Regions from separate parts of the Homo sapiens genome. Here region 2 is linked to region 1. Evidence: fine-mapped expression QTL. A gene starts in region 1. The other region holds a variant in brackets. All regions are shown on one strand. Distances are between the middles of the regions. Region 1 holds the start of EPB41L1 (erythrocyte membrane protein band 4.1 like 1). Region 2 has its middle 47 kb from the start of NORAD.

The links.
Region 2: its variant is fine-mapped to the expression of EPB41L1 in tibial artery (GTEx, PIP 0.96).

The regions. Positions count from the first base shown.
Region 1 is chr20:36,150,021-36,159,694 of GRCh38, reverse strand. EPB41L1 (erythrocyte membrane protein band 4.1 like 1) reads right to left here and starts at 4,955. Exons shown (of 22, transcript NM_012156.2): 1 at 4,799-4,955. EPB41L1-AS1 (EPB41L1 antisense RNA 1) reads left to right here and starts at 3,935. Exons shown (of 4, transcript NR_147703.1): 1 at 3,935-4,099; 2 at 4,441-4,632. LOC124904893 (a long non-coding RNA gene) reads left to right here and starts at 5,249. Exons shown (of 2, transcript XR_007067572.1): 1 at 5,249-5,798; 2 at 6,609-7,026. RefSeq lists a silencer at 5,017-5,216.
Region 2 is chr20:36,093,371-36,103,044 of GRCh38, reverse strand. It overlaps a transcript of EPB41L1 not described here. Among named protein-coding and RNA genes, the nearest start is that of NORAD, 47 kb to the right of the region's middle. RefSeq lists enhancers at 4,809-5,317, 7,181-7,682, 8,811-9,674 and a silencer at 9,254-9,463. The variant G/T (reference allele first, on the strand shown) is at 4,471.

The DNA of each region.
Region 1 (9,674 bases):
TATGTCTTACAACTTGAGTGACCTTGATCAAGTCACTTCCCCTCTTGATTAGTTCACTCATTCTTTCATCGGACAAGTATTTGCAAACCACTGAGCAACATGCTGCGACGAAACAATGAATAAAATGTGAACTCAACTCTGCCTTCAAGGAGACTGGAGTCTAGCGTCATTCTCTTCAAACACAGAAAGGATCTAGCCCCGGCCCCACCTCTGTCGCAGAGCAGTCATAAGCACAAAATGAATCAAGGATGCAAAAGAGCTTTGCAATTGCACAGCTCCATCCACTGCAAGCAGTTTTTCTGTGGGTGTTCACCACTGCGTATTATTTTATCCAGTGGATGTTCCAAAGCTTTCCCAATCATCTTCCTATTGTTGGACACTTAGTCCCAATTTACTGCTATTATAGAGGAAGCTCTGATGGGGATTTATTCAAAAGAAATAATTCAAAGGAAAAACAGGCCAGATGTGCAAAAAAGATGCTACCCAATCTTCCAGATGACTAAAGGGAGACCAGCCCTTCTCAAACTCACCAGGCCTGAAACAGAATTCCTGACCCTGTGGCCTTACCCACTCCAAGCTCCTCCTTCTCCAACCTGGCGAACCACCCACTACCAGAGGGACACCTTAATGAGTGCCAATCTTGATCCCTCCCCAGCCCTCCAAGTCCCCACAGTTAAGGTTTCTCCTGTAAGATCACGTCCACCCTCTCCTGTGGATCATACGGTTGCCAAAAGGACCTTCCCAAAACACAGTTCTGTCATGCTCCTCAGCAGACTAAAATCCTGCAAAGATTCCTAGAGCATCCCGGCTCACGTCAAGTCGAAACACCTTGGCCTGACATTTAAGAGAGACAGAAGCGGGAGAGAAGTAATGTTTACTGAGTTCCTGCAATGTGTTAGCATTACACTAGGTGCTTTATATAACAACCACAACATGGTCCCTGTGAGACAGGCATGTTTATCTGCATTTTACGAATGAGGAAACTGAGGTTTGGGCCAGCTGAGTGATGTGCCCAAGGCCACGTGGCTAATACAATGCATTGCTGTGACTATAGCCTACGTCTGGTGGATTCCAGAGCTCCATCAAAAACCCAAACACTAGGTGACTTTCTGAGTCACCTCCCAGCTCACACTCCGCCACACACACTATCTGTTCCACGCACATCAGACCGCCCACTCTTCTTCAGAGGCATTCCTATTTCCTTCCCCTCTGACCTGGGGAAGTGGGTGCCCTTCCCCCTTCAACCATCGAAATCCGACTTGGCCTTCAGTGCCCAGCTCAAAGGTCCCCGTCTTCTTGAAGCCTTCCCTGAGCACCAAAATAGGAATCCATGCTGAGCCTATGCAATAGCACACTCTTTACTTTTAGTGTGTCATGTCTGCATCTCTCCCAGCTAGACTGGGAGGCCTTTGAGGAGAGGGATGCATCTGACTGAGTGACTATTTCAACTTGAACAAAACAGAGTATGGCCTCTGAGAAACTACAGGCTGCCTGGCATGGCCTTCAGGAACATGGCTCTGACCCACACTGCCTAGGTTTGAATCCTGACTCCCCCACAGCCTAGCTATTTGACCTTGAACAACTATCTAAGCCACAGCTCCATCAATCTGTAAAACGGGAAGAATAACTCCTATACCTCATCTACACCTCACAGGGCTTTGTGAAGAACGTATGAGTTGTACATGGAAGCCCTTAAAACTGGGCCTGGCACATAATAAATGCTCAATAAATGTTAGCTGTTACTATTCTGATCCACAAGCCTCTAGCCCACAAAGGAAGCAGTGCCAGCCTGCTCCACCCCCACCCATCCACCAAGGCTCAGCTCCCTGCCCACAGGGCCTCCTTAGCCCAGTCCCCACTGTGGCCTCGGGATGTGTCCAGAGCCAGCCCATCTTCCCTAAAAGCCAATGGGAGCAGGGAGTCTGGTGTTTCCCCACTTCTGGGGGACCCTGGCCAGGAAGGAGAAGGCCAAGGCTAATCCTTCTCTGAGAGCTCCTAGTCAGTACTTATCTACCCCTACCCCTCAGCACTATAGTAATATTCAGTCCACAAAGCCACCCTTGCCTCACCAGGCACACACACACACACCCCTCACACACCTCTCCACCTGGACTGGCCCTGGCCTACCAATGAATTGCCTGGCTCCACTGGACACCAACCTGGTACTTCCAGATATTGCCCCCAGTAAATGTCATGGTAGAAAGAAGGGCTCTGGACTCAGACCGCCTCGCACTTTCCAGCTGCGTAACTTTAGTCCAGTGACATAACCTCTCTGAGCCTCAGTTTCTCCTCTGTAAAAAGTGGATAATTAATCACATCTATCTGACAGGGTTACTGTGAAATGACTCAAAGCACTTCTTGCAGTACATGGCATACAGTAAGTTTCAATAAATACTATCACTTTGATTGTGTAATCATTGGTATTTATCTCCAGGCAGAGATGATCATCCTCCCCGCCCTTTTTTTTTCTTTGAGAGGGAGTCTCGCTCTGTCTCCAGGCTGGAGTGCAGTGGCACGATGTCGGCTCACTGCAACCTCTGCCTCCTGGGGTCAGGCGATTCTCCTGCCTCAGCCTCCCGAGTTGCTGGGGCTATAGGCGTGCACTACCACGCCCAGCTAATTTTTGTATTTTTAGTAGAGACGGGGTTTCACCATGTTGGCCAGGATGGTCTTCATCTCTTGAACTTGTGATCTGCCCGCCTCGTCCTCCCAAAGTGCTGGGATTACAGGCGTGCGCAATGGCGCACGCCTGTGTCCCCTTTTAACAAATGGGACAGAGAAGCCCAGAAAGGGGCTCTTAGGGAAGTCCCGGCAGGTGCTAACAAGCACCTCCCACCACAGCCTGAAGTCAGAAAACTCTCTGTTGCCCCCTGGAGGCTCAGGCCAGAACATCCCTGGGCACCTGGCATCCTCTCAGCTCTATGCACTTCCAAGAGGGTCCAGGACCACCCACGGCCCTTTCTCTCAGCCCTGACCTCTCCTGCTCACCTACTGAGGGCAAGGGCTGGGAGGCCAACATAACACCCCTCCTAAGGGATCAGGTAGCCTCAGGCTCCAGGCTACAATGCCTAGCCCTTGGCAGAGTCCTGTCTATAGCACAACCACCGCAGCAGGGAAGCCAGCACCTGAGCTGCAAGAGCCCCAGAACAAGAGGTGGAAGACCTGGGTACATTAATGCTGACTCCCCCGCTCAGCTGCTTTGTGACCTTGGCCAAGTCACTCTTACTCTCTAGGCCCCGTTCAACCTTTCAATATCGACTGAGTGAGGACTACCTGACCAAGCATTGTTTTCATGCAGGATTCTATGGAAGAAGCTCTTCAAGAAGCTCACAGGGCTGAGCCCAGGAGGACTGTCACATAGCCCAGGAAGGGCTTTAATAGGAACAATGCCCTCTGCACTGATCTCCTCCAGGACTGCCTTGAGGTGCCCCTGAAATCCCAGGGACTGTGCTCTGCATGCCATAAATACTATGCCTGGGTTGCCAGGCAGGCATGACCTCAGGCTGGCCAGGAGAAGCCAGCTCCATCCTTGCACAGAGCTGGCAGAGCCTTCCTGGGCCACGGTGGCTCATAGGGGAGGCTGGCACAGGCTGCCTCTGCCGCAGGCTCCATCTGGAGGAATGGGTGGGCAGAGAGGCACACAGCTGCCTCTATTCTCCACACCCTTGCCCGGGACAGGAGGCACTGTCTTCCAAGAGCTGCGGAGGGCACCATCCAGGCCCCAGATCTTGACCTGGCTCAAGTGCCACTGATTCTGGAAGGCTCCTAATGCTGAGGGTGGGGGGATGGGGTGGGAATGAAGCCAAGCCGCTGGACCCCGCACAGCCCTGGAGAGGTCCTAAATCTGGCCGTCTCACATTCCCACCTTTGGGTGCAGAGGAGGTGCTATGCGGATCCAGAAGTGAATGTGGGAACACGTGGTGCTCTCTCCCCCACCAATGCATCCTCAGAGCTCCGAGGGAAAAGCAACGACGATGGCTGGCAGCTGAGGGAGAGACCAGCATCCCCAGAACTCCCTTTTGGTCCTTGTCCAGACTTCAAGGTCTCCATGGACCACTTTGAGCCATATACGTCTGCCAGTCAGTGGCCTCTGCACCCAGTAAGTACCCCAATGGCTGTAGACATTGGCCCCCCATGCCCATCCCTGAGACCCCAGCCTCTCGGGCCCTTGGACCTCCCCAAGTGTGAAGGTGCCAGACACAAGTGGGACACACAAGCCCTCTCCCTCTGATCAGGGGACGGTCACTGGCCAGGACAATGCCAGGCCAGAACTGCAGAAGTCCTAGGGCTAAGATCCCTCCTAGCAGCTCTGAGGTACTTGGAAGGGAGACGGAAGGGGAGGCAAGCCCAGAGCGGGGAAGGGTCCGTAACCAGAGTGAGGAGAGATGAGGGCAAGGGCTCGCCAGCATCCCAGGCTCCAGCCAAGAACTCCTCCTGCAGCGTCAGAAGCAGCAGAAATCCAAAGAGCCCTTGGCCTCTGGAGGCGGCAGCAGGAGTGCTCTCCGAAAAGAGACTGGGCCAGCCGGTGGGAGCCCAGCGCCCACCCACCGCTCATCCTACAGCAGGACCAACCCCCCGCCAACCCCCAGCCTCCGGATCCTCTCTCCAGGCCTTGGAGGAGGCTGCAGACCGGTAGGTAGGGAGGAACAGCGAGACCCTCCCCCACACTGGCCAGGGGACCAACAGCCTGAAAACTCAGTTCTCGGCCTCGCCCCCGTTCCTCCCCAGGGCTGGAGGCTGGGCCTAGATGTTGCAAGCCCCCGGCCCCGAGAGCCACCTGATTCCCCCATGTGCCTACCTGGGCCCGGGGTTCCCCATGTCGGGCAGGTTGGGCGAGGGGCGGCCCCCTCGGCTCCTCTGGCAGGCAGGCCGCGGGGCGGGGCGGCGCGGGGTCGCGGCGGGCTCTGCGGAGCAGCCTGTTCGGCGACACCCCCGCCCGCTGATGGATGCCGACTGCAGCAGCGGCGGCGGCGGCGGCGGCTCGGCGTGCGCCAGGGGCTGGGCACGGTGCCCACAGCCCCGGGCCTGGCGCCCGACGCGCGGCCAGCCCCCGCCCCCGCCCCGGCCTCGGAGCCCAGCCCAGGGGCGGCCGCCGCTTGCGCCTGCCTCCCAGCGCGCCGCGGCCCTGCCCCTGCCTCCGCCTCCTCTCTGCCTGTCTCCTCTACCACCCACCTCCCCCCGCGCCCCGCCCTCTCTCTCAGGCTCCCAGGCCACCTCCTCCCGGTCCGTGCCACACGGGCAGTTCCCAGACCACTGCGGGACTGTGCAGCTGGGGGGCCTCTCGAGCGCCCCGGCTGCCCCCACCCTGGTCCTAGCCAGCCCCGGGCCTCCTTGCTCTCGCCAAGCCCTCTTGGGGGCTCATCAGCGAGAAAGGGAGGGGGAGGAGAGAAGAGGGGGATGCATGCCTGACTCAGAAGGGGTGACTCAGCCTCAGTGGGCCTCCCATCCCACCGGAGCCGGATCCCCTCACCACCCCTGCAGCACAGCGACAGGGCAGAACCCGCCTAGGACTCGGCGTCCTCCCCCACCGGGAGGAGGTATTACAACTGTCTCCTGGGAATCCTCTGTGCCTCTGAGTGTGTCCAGAGGGTGTCTATGTGTACATTTGTCCACATGCGCCTTGGTGACAATGACAGTAAGTGTAACAGTGAGAGCCCAGGGACCTATTGGGGATGGGGCCTGTGTACAGGCGCACTTGCTGTATGTGTCTGAGCACAGGCTGAGTGTGCACCTGAGCTCCAGGAAAGGGCAGGGGCTGGCCAAGCAGCTTGTGGCAGAGATCATGGCTCAAAACCAAGGTAAGCCATGCTCCTCCCCTCCAGGAGCACTGTTACCCACTAAAAAAACCAGTCCAACCACTGCAGCACCTCCATCTCACACAATCCGAAGGTGGGGACCTCAAGCCACAGAGGACTCTGGGAGGGAGAGGGCCTGGGTTCCAGTCCAGGTCTGCCACTGGCTCAGCAAGTACCCTTGGGCAAGTTGTTCCATGCTCTGGGCCTCATTTGCAAATGACGAAAGGGCTGGACGTTCCTATCTCTAGGGTCCCTAGTTCATGGCGAAGGCATAGAGAGAATGGTGGGTAACCGCAGCATGATCTCCAAAGATTTCTGTCCATGGGTCCACTGCAACCCATATGACCGCGAACCCCCAGTCACCACCCTCACCTCCAGGCATACACAACTATTCATTCATTCTTCACATCATTCCTAAGTACCTACCATGTGCTGGCCATAGTTCTTACCACAGAATCCACTGCCCTGGGAAGCACAGAGGCCCCAAGCTGGGAAGCAGCCTCGATGTGAGCTGAGCCCTCCATCCTTCCCTGATGCGATTCCCTCAGTATCAGCCTCACCAGTGGGCTCTCCATCTCTGCTTGTCACACACTATAGAGCCAGGCACCTCCCTCCCCCAACTCCTCCCTCCCAGTGTGCTGCTCCATCATGGTGACCTTCTACCCTGGGTCCTCATAGGCACTCTAGGGCCTCCAAAGAATGAGGCTATGCCCTCTCCTCAGCACCCTTTAGAGAACTCAAGATACAATTGCGTCCCTTTGTACCATGCCCAAAGCAAGCCTTCTCTTCTCCAACTTAAACCTCCTTCATCAGGTGTCTTTAGACAAAGCTTCCGGTGCCTTCACTCCCCCTGCTCACCAGGTTCAGCAGCGGATGAAGAGCAGAGAGCAGAATGAAGCCAGCTTCTCCCAGTCCTAGAGAACAGGCCCACCCTCCAGACAGAAGGTGGGAAGACAGACAAATCTGCCCAGGCCGACTGACAGAAGGACGAGTGTCCTGCTTGGCAGCCTTCTGTACAAATCCTGTCCTTTGCCTTTGGACTTCTCATCCCCAGGCCTTTCAAATTCACTTTTTCCCAGGAGCTCCCAAGGGAGTCTCACACAGGCCCCTGGGGCCGTGGCCTTGGGCAAGTCACTTTGCCACACAAGGTGCTCTGTTTGAGTTTAGCTCACCACACATTTATTTAAATGAATGAGTGAAAGGACCAATAAAACTCAGGAGTTATACCAGATGCATTTATTGTTTCAGATGCACAGCTGCTAAGAGATTCTTGACTGCCTGCCTTCAAGTATTTTGATTCCAAATAGGCTCAGTCTCCCCTGCTGGCTGAGCCTTCCCAATCGTGGGCTCCCGTGGGCAGGAGGCTCTGGGCTGCATGGCCAAGGCTCTCTCTGTTCCTCTTAGTTCAACTCTCCTTCCCTGGCCATCTCCCTTTCCTTCCTTCCCCCAGGCTGAAGCCCTCCCCACTCCTCCCCTGGGGCAGGGCCACTTTCCCACCCTCCTCAACCAGATGGAGCCTCTCACTTTCCCAGGAGAATCCAGGCTACACTCCAAAGACCGAGGCAGGATGTTCCCAGACATCGTTCTGCATTTATACCCAAAGGGCTCAATTCACTTCAGGTCATTGAGACCACACAGAAAATGAGGCTTCTGCTATTTTAATTATTTTGATTATTATTATTATTCACTAACATTTCTATTAGCACTTTCCAGTTTGCAAAATACTTTTGTGTGTCATCTGCACAGCATCTTGTGAGATAATATCATCCCTCATCTTTTTTTTTTTCTTTTTTGAGACGGAGTCTCGCTCTGTTGCCCAGGCTGGAGTGCAGTGGCGCGATCTCGGCTCACTGCAAGCTCCGCCTCTCGGGTTCACGCCATTCTCCTGCCTCAGCCTCCCGAGTAGCTGGGACTACAGGCGCCTGCCACCACCATGCCCAGCTAATTTTTTTTTGCATTTTTAGTAGAGATGGGGTTTCACCATGTTAGCCAGGATGGTCTCGATCTCCTGACCTCGTGATCCGCCCGCCTCGGCCTCCCAAAGTGCTGGGATTACAGGCGTGAGCCACCGCGCCCGGCCCCCATCTTATAAATAGGCAGGCTGAGGCTCAGAGTGGGAGTGACTTGCCCAAGGTTACGCTTACACAGTTACACTGGCTCCCTGGACTACATACTTTCCACTTTACCCAACAATAACCCTTTCCAGAAAAATCAGGCTGGAGGAAGCAGGAGAGACACTTAAGAATGTATGGCCCCCATAGGCATCAGTTGCAATTACTACTTGAGTTACTTGACTGTTTTCATTCCCCAGGCAGGGAAACTGAGGCACAGGGATAGGACTCAACCTAGGACCAAGTCTCATGGAGAAAGAAGGAAAGAGGAGCCCATCCAAAAAAGGGGTTCCTCAGTTCCTTAGCTGCAAATTCTGCTTCCAGCCCTAGCGCTACCATTTCTTTTTGTATTACTTAGGCAGGTTATTTGACATCTCTGAGCCTCAATTTTCTCACCTATAAAATGGGAGAATCCCTGCCCCATGTCTGTCACTGGGCTGCTGTGATGGGAGGTCAGCAGATGCTGGCAGAAGAGAAGGGACAGGACCCTTCATTCCCTCTCTGCTCTGTCTAGGAGGCAGGAGAAATTCTTTCCTCTTAAATTTTAACTGGATGGAACTTAATGGTGCAAAAGTCCAGGATACAGGAAAGCCAGGAGGAGAACGGAAGTGATTCGCTCCACTGGCTGGGAAAGCAAGGGACACAGAGTCAGCCACAGACCCCCAAGGTCACTGCGGGGCAGAGATTCAACCAAACACTTCAGGCAGGGCCCCTCCTATCTCCCTTTTATCTTTCAAAGGAGGAAACCAAGGTTCTAAGCAAAGCAGTGACTTGCCAAGGTCACCCACAAGTAGTCAGTGGTCTCCTGACTCCCAGCCACCAGGGCCCTTGACTACTGGGCAAGCAGGGTGGGGTGGGGAGCACTCCCAGCCCAAGGACTTAATCTTTCATTCAGCAAGCAGTAATGCTCACACCAAGCCAGGCCCTGGACACTGGGGAAGGCTGGAGGAATTGAATACAGCCTCTGCCCTTGAATTCACAATCAATCTAGTGGAGGCACGTACCCCAGCACATCAGAGGATACTAGAAGGTGAAGCACCACCATTTTCTGAGCACTTCCTCTGTGCCTGGCACTGGACACACATTCATTTGTTTAATCCTCAAAGCAATTCTCTGGCACTGAAATTATTAATCCCTTTCACAGCTGAAGTAACTGAGGCTCAGAAGGGTTAGCGACCCCAAAGTTCATCCAGCTAATAAATGGCAGGGTCGGAATATGACTGACAGGTATGTCTGGTGCCAAACTCTGAGCTTCAACCCTTATAAACTCCCTGTTTTTAGGTCTGTGCTAACCAATATGGTAGCTACTAGCCATGGCTAGTTGCTATGGAGCACTTGAAATGTGGCTCGTTCAAATAAAAATGTGCTGTAAATATAAAAATCAGATTTTGAAGATTTCATACCAAAAAGAATGTAATATGTCTCGGGCATGGCTCACACCTGTAATCCCAGCACTTTGGGAGGCCGAGGTGGGCGGATTACCTGAGGTCAGGAGTTCGAGACCAGCCTGGCCAACATGGTAAAACCCCATCTCTACTAAAAATACAAAAATTAGCCGGGCATGGTGGCATGTGCCTATAATCCCAGCTACTCCAGAGGCTGAGGCAGGAGAATAATTGCTTGAACCCAAGAGGCGGAAGTTGTAGTAAGCTGAGATCGTGCTATTGCACTCCAGCCTGGGGGACAAGAGCGAAACTCCGTCTCAAAAAAAAAAAAAACAAAAAAACCTTATGAATGTATTGGGTTAAATAAAACAAATCATTTGAAT
Region 2 (9,674 bases), 57 kb after region 1:
TGAGCCTTGAAAAGGCAGACAGGATTTCAACAGTGATTGGGGAATGGAGGGGGTGGCATTCTTGGCAGGGAGGAACAGAGGGAGCTAGGGCAAAGACATAGGAAGCACTGGGTGTGTCCCAGGAGCCTCAGGAAATTAGTTTTCGCAGCCCTCCCCTTGGCACTGACCCACATGTCCAGCTCTGAACAGAGGTCACCTTGAGCTTCCCCAGATTCACAGGCACCTTGCTCAATTATGGTGAGTGGGGACGGAAAGGGAGAAAGGACTTGAGCATTTGGGCATGTGGTCAGACAGAAGGGACTCAAGGGGCCAGAATGCAGGCTGTGTCCAGAATCTCTGAAGATGGAAGATGCAAAAGTGGGAGGTCCCCCCAGTGGTGGGTGAAGCCAGGGAGGAGCAAGGAAAAGGACAAAGAACTTGGACTGGGCAGCAGGAGACCTGACTTCCAGAACCACAGATCAAAGCTGCATGGAAACTTGGGATTATCCTGTCCAACCCCCATTTTACAGCTAGGAAAACTGAGGCCCAGACAGAGGGACAGGTCTACAGTCCCTGACCACCTTCACAGCAAAGCCAGTAATGTGCTGAGAGGCATGAGAGACCAGCCCTCTCCACCCAGCTCTGCCATTGGCTCCCTGGTGACCTTTCTCTAGACGTTAGGCTCCAACTGCGCAAAACAACCCTGAAGACAGCAGTTCTAAAGTTGTATGGGTTGTGACTCCAAGACAGACGGTGCCTGTGGATCCTCTCCTAGGGACAATGCACACTCTTAACATTGTGCATGCCATATTTCAGAAGTTCATGAACATCTGAGGCCAGCCTTCTACAAGGGCAATCTGAGAACCATCTGTGTCCCAATCATCTCGATGGGGAGACTGTTACAGCAGGCTGCTTCCGGGGCCCTACCTCGGATCTGACGCCCACCCCCCACCCCGCCCATGGAGCAGCTGGGTTTGAATCTCTTGGGTGAGGTCTGGAAAAAGAGTGCTGGGTTTTTTTGTTTTTTTTGTTTTGTTTTGTTTTGTTTTGTTTTGTTTTTTGAGACAGAGTCTCACTCTGTCACACAGGCTGGAGTGCAATGGTGTGATCTCAGCTCACTGCAACCTCCGCCTCCCAGGTTCAAGCGATTCTCCTGCCTCATCTTCCCTAGTAGCTGGGATTACAGGTGCATGCAGCCATGCCCAGCTAATTTTTGTATTTTTAGTAGAGACAGGGTTTCACCATGTCAGGCTGGTCTCGAACCCCTGACCTCAGGTGATCCACCTGCCTCAGCCTCCCAAAGTGCTGGGATTACAGGCATGAGCCATGGCACACAGGTTTTGTTTTGTTTTATTTTGCTTTTTAGCATGCTCACCTTTGTTGCTCTTAGGGGGAAACAAAGTTTGAGAGGCCCAGCCTTAGGGAACCCTAGGAGGGAGGGGAATGGGGTGGGGTGCTAAGCTGCTCCCCCTTTTAGGTGTTTCACAAATTGAACTTCTGCTCCCTTGCCTATGAAGAGTGGCTCTGTGGATAGAAGTTTCAAAGCCACCACTCCTTCACCAAGGTCCCTTCTGACTGAGCCACCTGCTCAGGCAGGCAGGTGGCTGGGCTGAGCCAGGCTGACCAACATAATGGTCTCGGTTGGGGTGGGTGGAGGCTCAACAAGCTGACTGCAGCTGCCCAGATTCCTGAGTGACAGTCTGAGACCAGCAGCCCTGACTGGGAGGGAGTCTGGACTCCCGGGCTGCACATGGGGTGAGAGCAGGTTTCCTATTCCTCCCTCTCTCCAGGCCACCTCCCTCTGGCCCTCAGGCCAGCTCCTTTTTTTCTTCTGGTGGATATGTACCTCTGAACCTGGGTCTCCTGGCTCCGGTCTCTGCCTCCCTCCCCACTTCTTCCAGAGTTCCACCCGTCACTGAGCCTGCAGCATATCCAAGCTCCCAAGCAGTCTTGTGAGGAGACAAAAGTAATGCTCTTTGCAAATGATATGCTTCTTTAAGTGGAAGACTCGATTCAATGAAAAATTGAGGTGGCCAGAGACAAAACAATAACTAGGAAAAAAGGCAAGTACCTTCAGATGGGCCCTGTCACCACCCCCCATACCGATGCAGTGTCTCTCCTACAGGTGGGCAGCTGCCTAGAACCAGATGGGCTCAGAGCCTTGGCGGGCCCCAAGGCTGATGCTGTAGAAAGGCCAGTCCCGGAGGTGCTGCCAGAGTGCAGGCCTGGGAGGGAAGATTCCTCGATTGGAAGCCCTTCTTTCAGAGTCAAGAATTTGTTCTCTGAATTTGAGCAAATGCATGCCCCTCTGTGGACACCTAAATGCTCCCGCAGGCTCTGTCACAGGCCATATAGGAAAGACTCAAGAGTACCGGTGGGCTTCGGACAGATCTAGATTGAAATCCCAGCTGTGCCACTTGCTGGCTGAGGACTGCGTAGGCCTTGGGCAAGTTATTTAGCCTCCTGTAATACGACGGGGATCATCATCTCTGCCTCACTTGGTAGTTGTAAGGATTAAAAGACATAAGGCATGTAAAGCGCTTAGCACAGGGCCTGGCACACAGTAAGCCAATAAACATAAGCAGTTGATTATAAGTCACCAGAGTGAGCCTCTTATGAGGAAGACTCTAGACTTTCTAATTCTAGGTGGCCTCAAGCAAACCCAAAACCACCCACCTGAAGTGGGCCTGGAGACTCTATCTTTAGACCTCTAATCTGGGGACAAGGTGGGGAGAGGGAAGGGGAGAAAGCAGACAGAAGGGAGAGAGCAAACTGAGAAGAGGAGGGAGGAAAGGAAAGAAGAATCAAGGGGCCAAGGAGGGGCCTGGCTTCCCCAGTGTGGGGGGAAAGGAAGATGACTTGCCAGAAACTACCAGGACAGTATAAGCCCTCTCTCTTTCCCAGAGCTTTCCCTAGACCCACCAAGGCAAGGCTTAGAGGGACAGGACCTGCTGAGAAATGCCACCCTGGCTGTCAACAGGGACACTGAAGCCTTGGGTTACATCTAGACTCCAGAGCCCCGCATGGTGGCCCTCCCACCAGAGTAGGCAGAGATGGCCATAGCCAGAGTGATAACAGAACAACCGGCCCATTCAGCCTGCTCACTCAGAGCCCAGGGACCCCTTTCTTGGGGTTCTAATCCTGACAGCAGGACACTCTCCTGTTGCATCCTCACCTCTGGAACATATGCAGAGCCCACTCCAGGCCTCTATCTGCCCTGAGCTCCTGCTTCTGGGCCTAAAGTTGCAACTAGGGAAAAAGCACTGTTCAGACTGAAGACAGGAGCCACAGATAAGGTGTTCCAATTACCACTGACCAGCTGTGTGACTTTGCGGGTGTCACTTTTTCTCCCTGAGCATGTTTCCCTCCTCAGGCTAATAAGGGCAACGGCAAGGACCATCTCTAAGGTCCTCCCAACTCAGACAGAGGCGACACTTCATGGGATGCCTCTGAGCACAAACAGGCAAAGAGGACCTGTCTCAGGAGAGGAGCGGGCTGGGCTGGGCTGGGCTCTGAGGAGAATGCAGCGGATATGACAATGGCCAAGGGTTATTATGATGATTATTATTATAATTAAAAATCACAGCTACAAGCCCTTAAGCAATTTACAAAGAGCTTTCTCATTATCTCCTGGGATCGCAATTTGGTGAAGTAGGCAGGGCTGGATGATGATTATTCACATTTGATAGATGAGGAAAGTAAAGCAAGATTAGGTGACTTGTCCAAGCTCCTAAGTGCAGAGAAGGGAGAGCTGGAAAGGAAGTAGGTATTGAGTGCCTACTGTGTACTACCTCATTAGGCATGCTCATATCTGTTATTTTGATCAAGTCTCATGACCATGACACTACTGTAGGTGCTACTGTCCCATTTCTTTGTTTTGTTTTGTTTTGTTTTTTCGAGACGGAGTCTTGCTCTGTCACCCAGGCTAGAGTGCAGTGGCACAATCTCAGCTCACTGCAATGTCCGCCTCCCAGGTTCAAGCAATTCTCCTGTCTCAGCCTCCCGAGTAGCTGGGATTACAGGTGCCCGCCACCACGCCTGGCTAATTTTTGTATTTTTAGTAGAGACAGCGTTTCACCATGTTGGCCAGGCTGGTCTCAAACTCCTGACCTCAGGAATAATCCGCCTCAGATCACTCAAATTTGAAATACAAATCTGATCAGATGATCTGCCCACCTCGGCCTCCCAAAGTGCTGGGATTACAGGCGTGAGCAACCATGCCTGGCCTACTGTCTCCATTTCATAGAGGCTCCACTGCAAAGCCTAAATTTGGATGTAGCCCTGTGGAACTAAAAGGCATGCACTCCTCCCCAACTTCCTGCATGTATTGGGTTGAACAGTGTCCCCTCCCAACCCAAATTTATGTCTACCTAAAACTTCATAATGTGACCATATTTGGAAACAGGGTCTTTGCAGATGCAATTACTCAAGTTCAAATGAGGTCATACTGGACTAGGGTGGGTTCTAAATCCCATATGACTGGTGTCCTTA[G/T]AAGAGGAAATGAAACAGAGAGAAAGCCACGTGACGACAGAGGCAGATGCAGCTGCAAGCCAAGAAATGCCAAAGATTGCTGGCAACCACCAGAAGCTAGGAGAAAGGCAGGAAACAGATTGCCCCAGAGCCTCCAGAAGGAGCCAACCTTGCTGACACCTGGATTTCAGACTTCTAGCCTCCACAAGTGGGGGAGTAAATGTCTGTGGTTCAAAGCTACCTGGTTTGCGTGCTTCATGACAGCACCCCTAGGAAGTTAATACACTGTGCATCCTTTGAGTAGCAGACCTAGGACCCTCAAACTCTGTTTTTCAGATTCCCACTCATTAGGCAGCTTTAGAGGTTAAAGAGGACCCAGAGGCTCCTCATGAGAAGTCACTCTCACCTCTCCTGCACCTTCCAGGGCCAGGCTGTCGTGAAACCAGGCTGAAGACAGGCTTACAGAGGAAAAAGCTTCCTAGAACAGCCTGTTCTAGGTATCTATCCACCCCAGTGGGGCCTCCCATTGAGCTTGTTTAGCAGCCTCTGTGCCCAGGTCTCCAGGTCAACAGTCCTTCCCTTCCTCCCAGACCAACCATCCTCTGTCACCACCTGGAGAGCTGTGTTTTTGAAATGCAAATCTGATCCTTCCTGGTTGGCTTACTCCTCTTCCCCAGCTCCCTGCCGTCTGCAGGACTTGCTCAGGCTCTTTGGCCTGCACCAGATCTGTCCCTAATCTTCCTCTCAGCTTTATCTCCAGTCATTCACTCCTCCACCCTCATCCCTGCCACTCACCACCTCCTATTCCAACCATGTGGAACTATTTGGGGTTCCCCTAAGAAGCCGTTCTGCCTTTGCACATGCTATTTCAAATACCCAGACGGTAAAATCCAGCCCAAACACCATCTCTGTCCTCCAGGAAGCCTTTTCCTCCATAAACAGCCACACCCTGGCAGCTTGTACATTGTCCTTGCGGTGGTATTGCATCTTTACATGTCTGCTCCCACCCCCAACCTGTGAATACTGCTGGATTCATTTCTGTTTTTGTAGGCCTAGGGCCCAATACAAAGGCCTTCAAGAATGTTGAGCTGAATTGTGGAGTAGCAATAATGGTCATAATAGTTGACATTTATCAAATGTTTCTTATGCACTCACATTATGCTAAGCATTCCAAGGATGTTATCTCATTTAATTATCAAAACAATCCTGTGAAACAGATACTAGTACTGGTCCTGTTTTACAAGTAAGGAAATGAGGAAATGGAATCACTTGCCCTAGTCCCCCCAGCTAGTACATGGCAAGCCCCGAATGACTGTAGAGCCAGTGCTAGTAACCACTACTAAGTGTGCCACCCATCCCAATACCTTCATTTTACAGAGATGGACACGTGCCAAAAGGGGAAAGTGATTGGCCCTCAGTCACATAACAAGGCATGGACGCAGATATTTGGATTCCTCTTTCAATACTTTTCCTCTTCTCATTCCAGTACAAACCTAATCCAGGAAGACACAGAACCCAAGCTAGGCTGTGTCTCCTGAGGAGCCTCCTCCTGCCTCCACTAGAGCAGAGCCCAGCATGGGCCTGGACCCACGGTGAGTGCTCAAATCTACAGCCAGGAGATGGGAGATGCAGCATTGAAAAAGACAGGTAAATCAACTTGAGAAAAGGCTGAAGCCTGCTTGGATTACACATTGTCAGGGCTTGAAACGAAACTTTGGGTATCATTTAGTGCCATCTGCCATTTTATAAATTAACTCAGTTTGACAAGCTTATTGAACACAAATCATAAGTCAGGCACTGTGTGGGACACTAAGAAGATTAGTAAGCAAGTTCCTGCCCACATGGCATTTACAGTCTAGTAAAGGGACAAACAACAATTACAAATTCTCACAAGCCCTGTGAGACACAGAGAGCTCTAAGAATGTGTAACAGGGAAAATTGACTTGGCCTAGAGAGTTGGCAAAGGCCCCCCTGAGAAAGTGACTATTGAGCTGAAACATGAAGAGTGGGAGTTAATCAAGATAAGAAGCAGGGGAAGAGTGTGCTAGACAAAGGGAACAGGATGTGCAAAATCCCAGAAGCAAAAGAGCTCATGGTGCCTAGATGAACTAAAAGGCCAAAGTGGCTGTTGTCCAGAGAAGTGGGCAGGAACTGGATCCTGAAGGGCCTTAGAGATCAAAGTAAGAATTGGAGAAACTGAGCAGATCAGGGAAACCCCTCGCTCAGAACCTGGTCCACAGCACACTGTCAAAGAGTCATTGCATTAGTCACTGAAGGAGAGACTTGTCCAAGATCATAAGACCTGGGACTTGAAAGCAGAATTCCTACCTACCAGGTGGGGCCTGAGTGCTATTTCAGGCACCTGTGTGAGGGACAGGGGAGGCTTTCCAAGTGTTTCAATTAATAGATGTTTCCTGGCTCCCTGTCTCCACCTCTCTTGAGCTCCAGAGTAAATAAGAATTACCTGTGTTTGTTAAAACATAGATTGCTGGGCCACACCTCCAGAGTTATCAATTCCTAGGTCTGGCGTGAGAACCAAGAAATTGCATTTCTTTTTTTTTTTTTTCCCTGAGATGGAGTCTCGCTCTGTCACCCAGGCTGGTGCGCAGTGATGCAATCTCAGCTCACTGCAACCTCCGCCTCCTGGGTTCAAGCGATTCTCCTGCCTCAGCCTCCTTAGTAGCTGGGATTACAGGCGCGTGCCACCATGCCCGGCTAAATTTTGTATTTTTACCATATTGGCCAGGCTGCTCTCGAACTCCTGACCTCAGGTGATCCATTCGCCTCGCCTCCCAAAGTGCTGGGATTACAGGCGTGAGCCACCACGCCCTGCCAATAAATTGCATTTCTAACAAACTCCCAGGTAACCCTGCTGCTGTTGGTGAGGTGAAAAAACCACAGCTCTAGACTAGAGTATATTGGTGGGGAGATTAGTAGTGAGGACCATGGCCAGGATCTCTGGGGACTAGAAGGGTGGATTCCTGAACCTGGGTAACAACGAGACAAACTCTAGCAATCTGAGCAAGGGAAGGGTCATCAAAGTCCCAAAATCTAGCCCACTAGCTGCCTAGCCAGGTAAACCAAGGCTTAGGGAGTTTAGACCCTTTCACATAAAGAAGCTTAATAAAAAGTGTTGGGTGAAGAGATAAACACATGAAGGGGTTGGCTAAAGTCAAAAGAAGATCCCAGGCTGGGCGCAGCGGCTCATGCCTGTAATCCCAGCACTTTGGGAGGCGGAGGCAGGCAGATCCCTTGAGGTCAGGAGTTTGAGACCAGCCTGACCAACATGGTGAAACCCTGTCTCTACTAAAAATACAAAAATTAGGCCGAGCACGGTGGCTCATGCCTGTAATCCCAGCACTTTGGGAGGCCGAGGCGGGTGGATCACCTGAGGTCAGGAGTTCAAAGCCTGCTTGGCCAACATGGCAAAACCCTGTCCCTACTAAAAATACAAAAATTAGTCGGGCGTGGTGGTGGGTGCCTGTAATCCCAGCTACTTGGGAGGCTGAGGAAGAAGAATTGCTTGAACCCAGGAGGAGGAGGTTGCAGTGAGCCGAGATCATGCCATTGCACTCCAGCCTAGGCGACAAGAGTGAAACTCTGTCTCAAAAAAGAAAAAAAAAAAAATTAGCTGGGCGTGGTGGCTCATTCCTATAGTCCCAGCTATTGAGGAGGCTGAGGCGGGAGAATCACTTGAACCCAGGAGGCGGAGGCTGCAGTGAGCTGAGATCGTGACACTGCCTACACTCCAGTCTCGGTGACAGAACAAGGCAAAAGATCTCTGGCCCAGACTCCAGAGCTCATGAACTCCAGGCCAGCTTTTCCCATGTCCCGGGATTCTGGGATTCAAGGAGGGGACAGAAAGCTCAGCTTTCCCCAGCCTCTGCTGCTTTTGGCAGGGAAACATTTTTAAGAATTGCAGAAATCTGCTGCTGGCCCCCAATCCTATCACCCATCCACCTTCCTTCCTTTTACACTCCCAGCTCCCTCCCTTTGCACTCCAAATCCTGTGTCCTGTATCTTGGCAAGCCAAGCAGCAAAGGGGGATGTGACGTTACGGGGAAGAACTGGAACTAATGGAAGAATTCTTGCACTTGGATATCCTTCTCTCTGAACAATTTCTTCCTCCTATAAGACTCTACTTCTCTCTACCCTTGTATCACAGTCAAAATCCAACCTACCTACATTTCAGTACCGGTATCTGAAACCCACAAAGCCACAGACTAAATTCCCAAACTTCCTTTTCACGCAGTTTTTCAAAAATGGCGTGGCCCGGTACAGAATGTTTCTCTTCTATTCCATTTGGCAGCAAAATGCCACTTCTCTGCAAACCCACATGCACAGACTAATATACAAACAACTACACATACATAAAAACAAATATACCAGAACCTATAAAAACACACACACATATACATCAAGAGATACATTTTCACTGTTCACTATACACCCAAATGTACAAGAAGTACACAGGGAGGACACATGCACACAGACTACAGATCTAGAAATGCCTGTATGCACCAGTACTTGGAGAAAGGGGTATGGACATACCCAGAGACATCTCTTTCAAAGTAGAGAGGTCTCCTGAGGAGGGATTCCCTGGAGTGAGGAGCTGGCCCTTTAAGAGAGTGGTTCTCCCTCCTAGTCCTTTTCAGGGCACCTGAGCTTCTACCCACCTACCTTCCCACCCACCCAGAGCCCTGCACGGGTGAGACTGGCACAGGCTAGGTCTGGTGGGGGGCTGGGGGGAGGCCGGAGGGGACATGTCCCCTGGCCACAACAGGAAATGAATCCCTGAACCGGCTGGTCACCAGCCTGGAAACTGCTGTTGCTACCACCACCACCCCGCACCCACACCCACATCCACACACGCGCGCGCACGCATACACATACACACACACACACACGCACGCACGCACGCACACGGGCTTCAAGCAGGACACGCCCTCCTCTCCAGCTCAGGTCAGAACGCGGGCTCTGCTGTCAGCCCAGTTCCCCCGACCCCCGGGGTGTGGCCGCCCACCTGCCAGCAGGGAGTCTCTGCCCGACGGGGAAGGGACACCCCCGCCGCCGCCACCCACCGCCCAGGCCAGGTGCCCAGCTCCCAGCGGCGGCGGCGCCTGGACCGCCGCCCCCACCGCTTCCTCCCGGCAGTGCGAAGACAAAGCCGCGCACACGCACACGGGGGCTACGCGGGAGCACACCCGCACTCACACGCGCACACA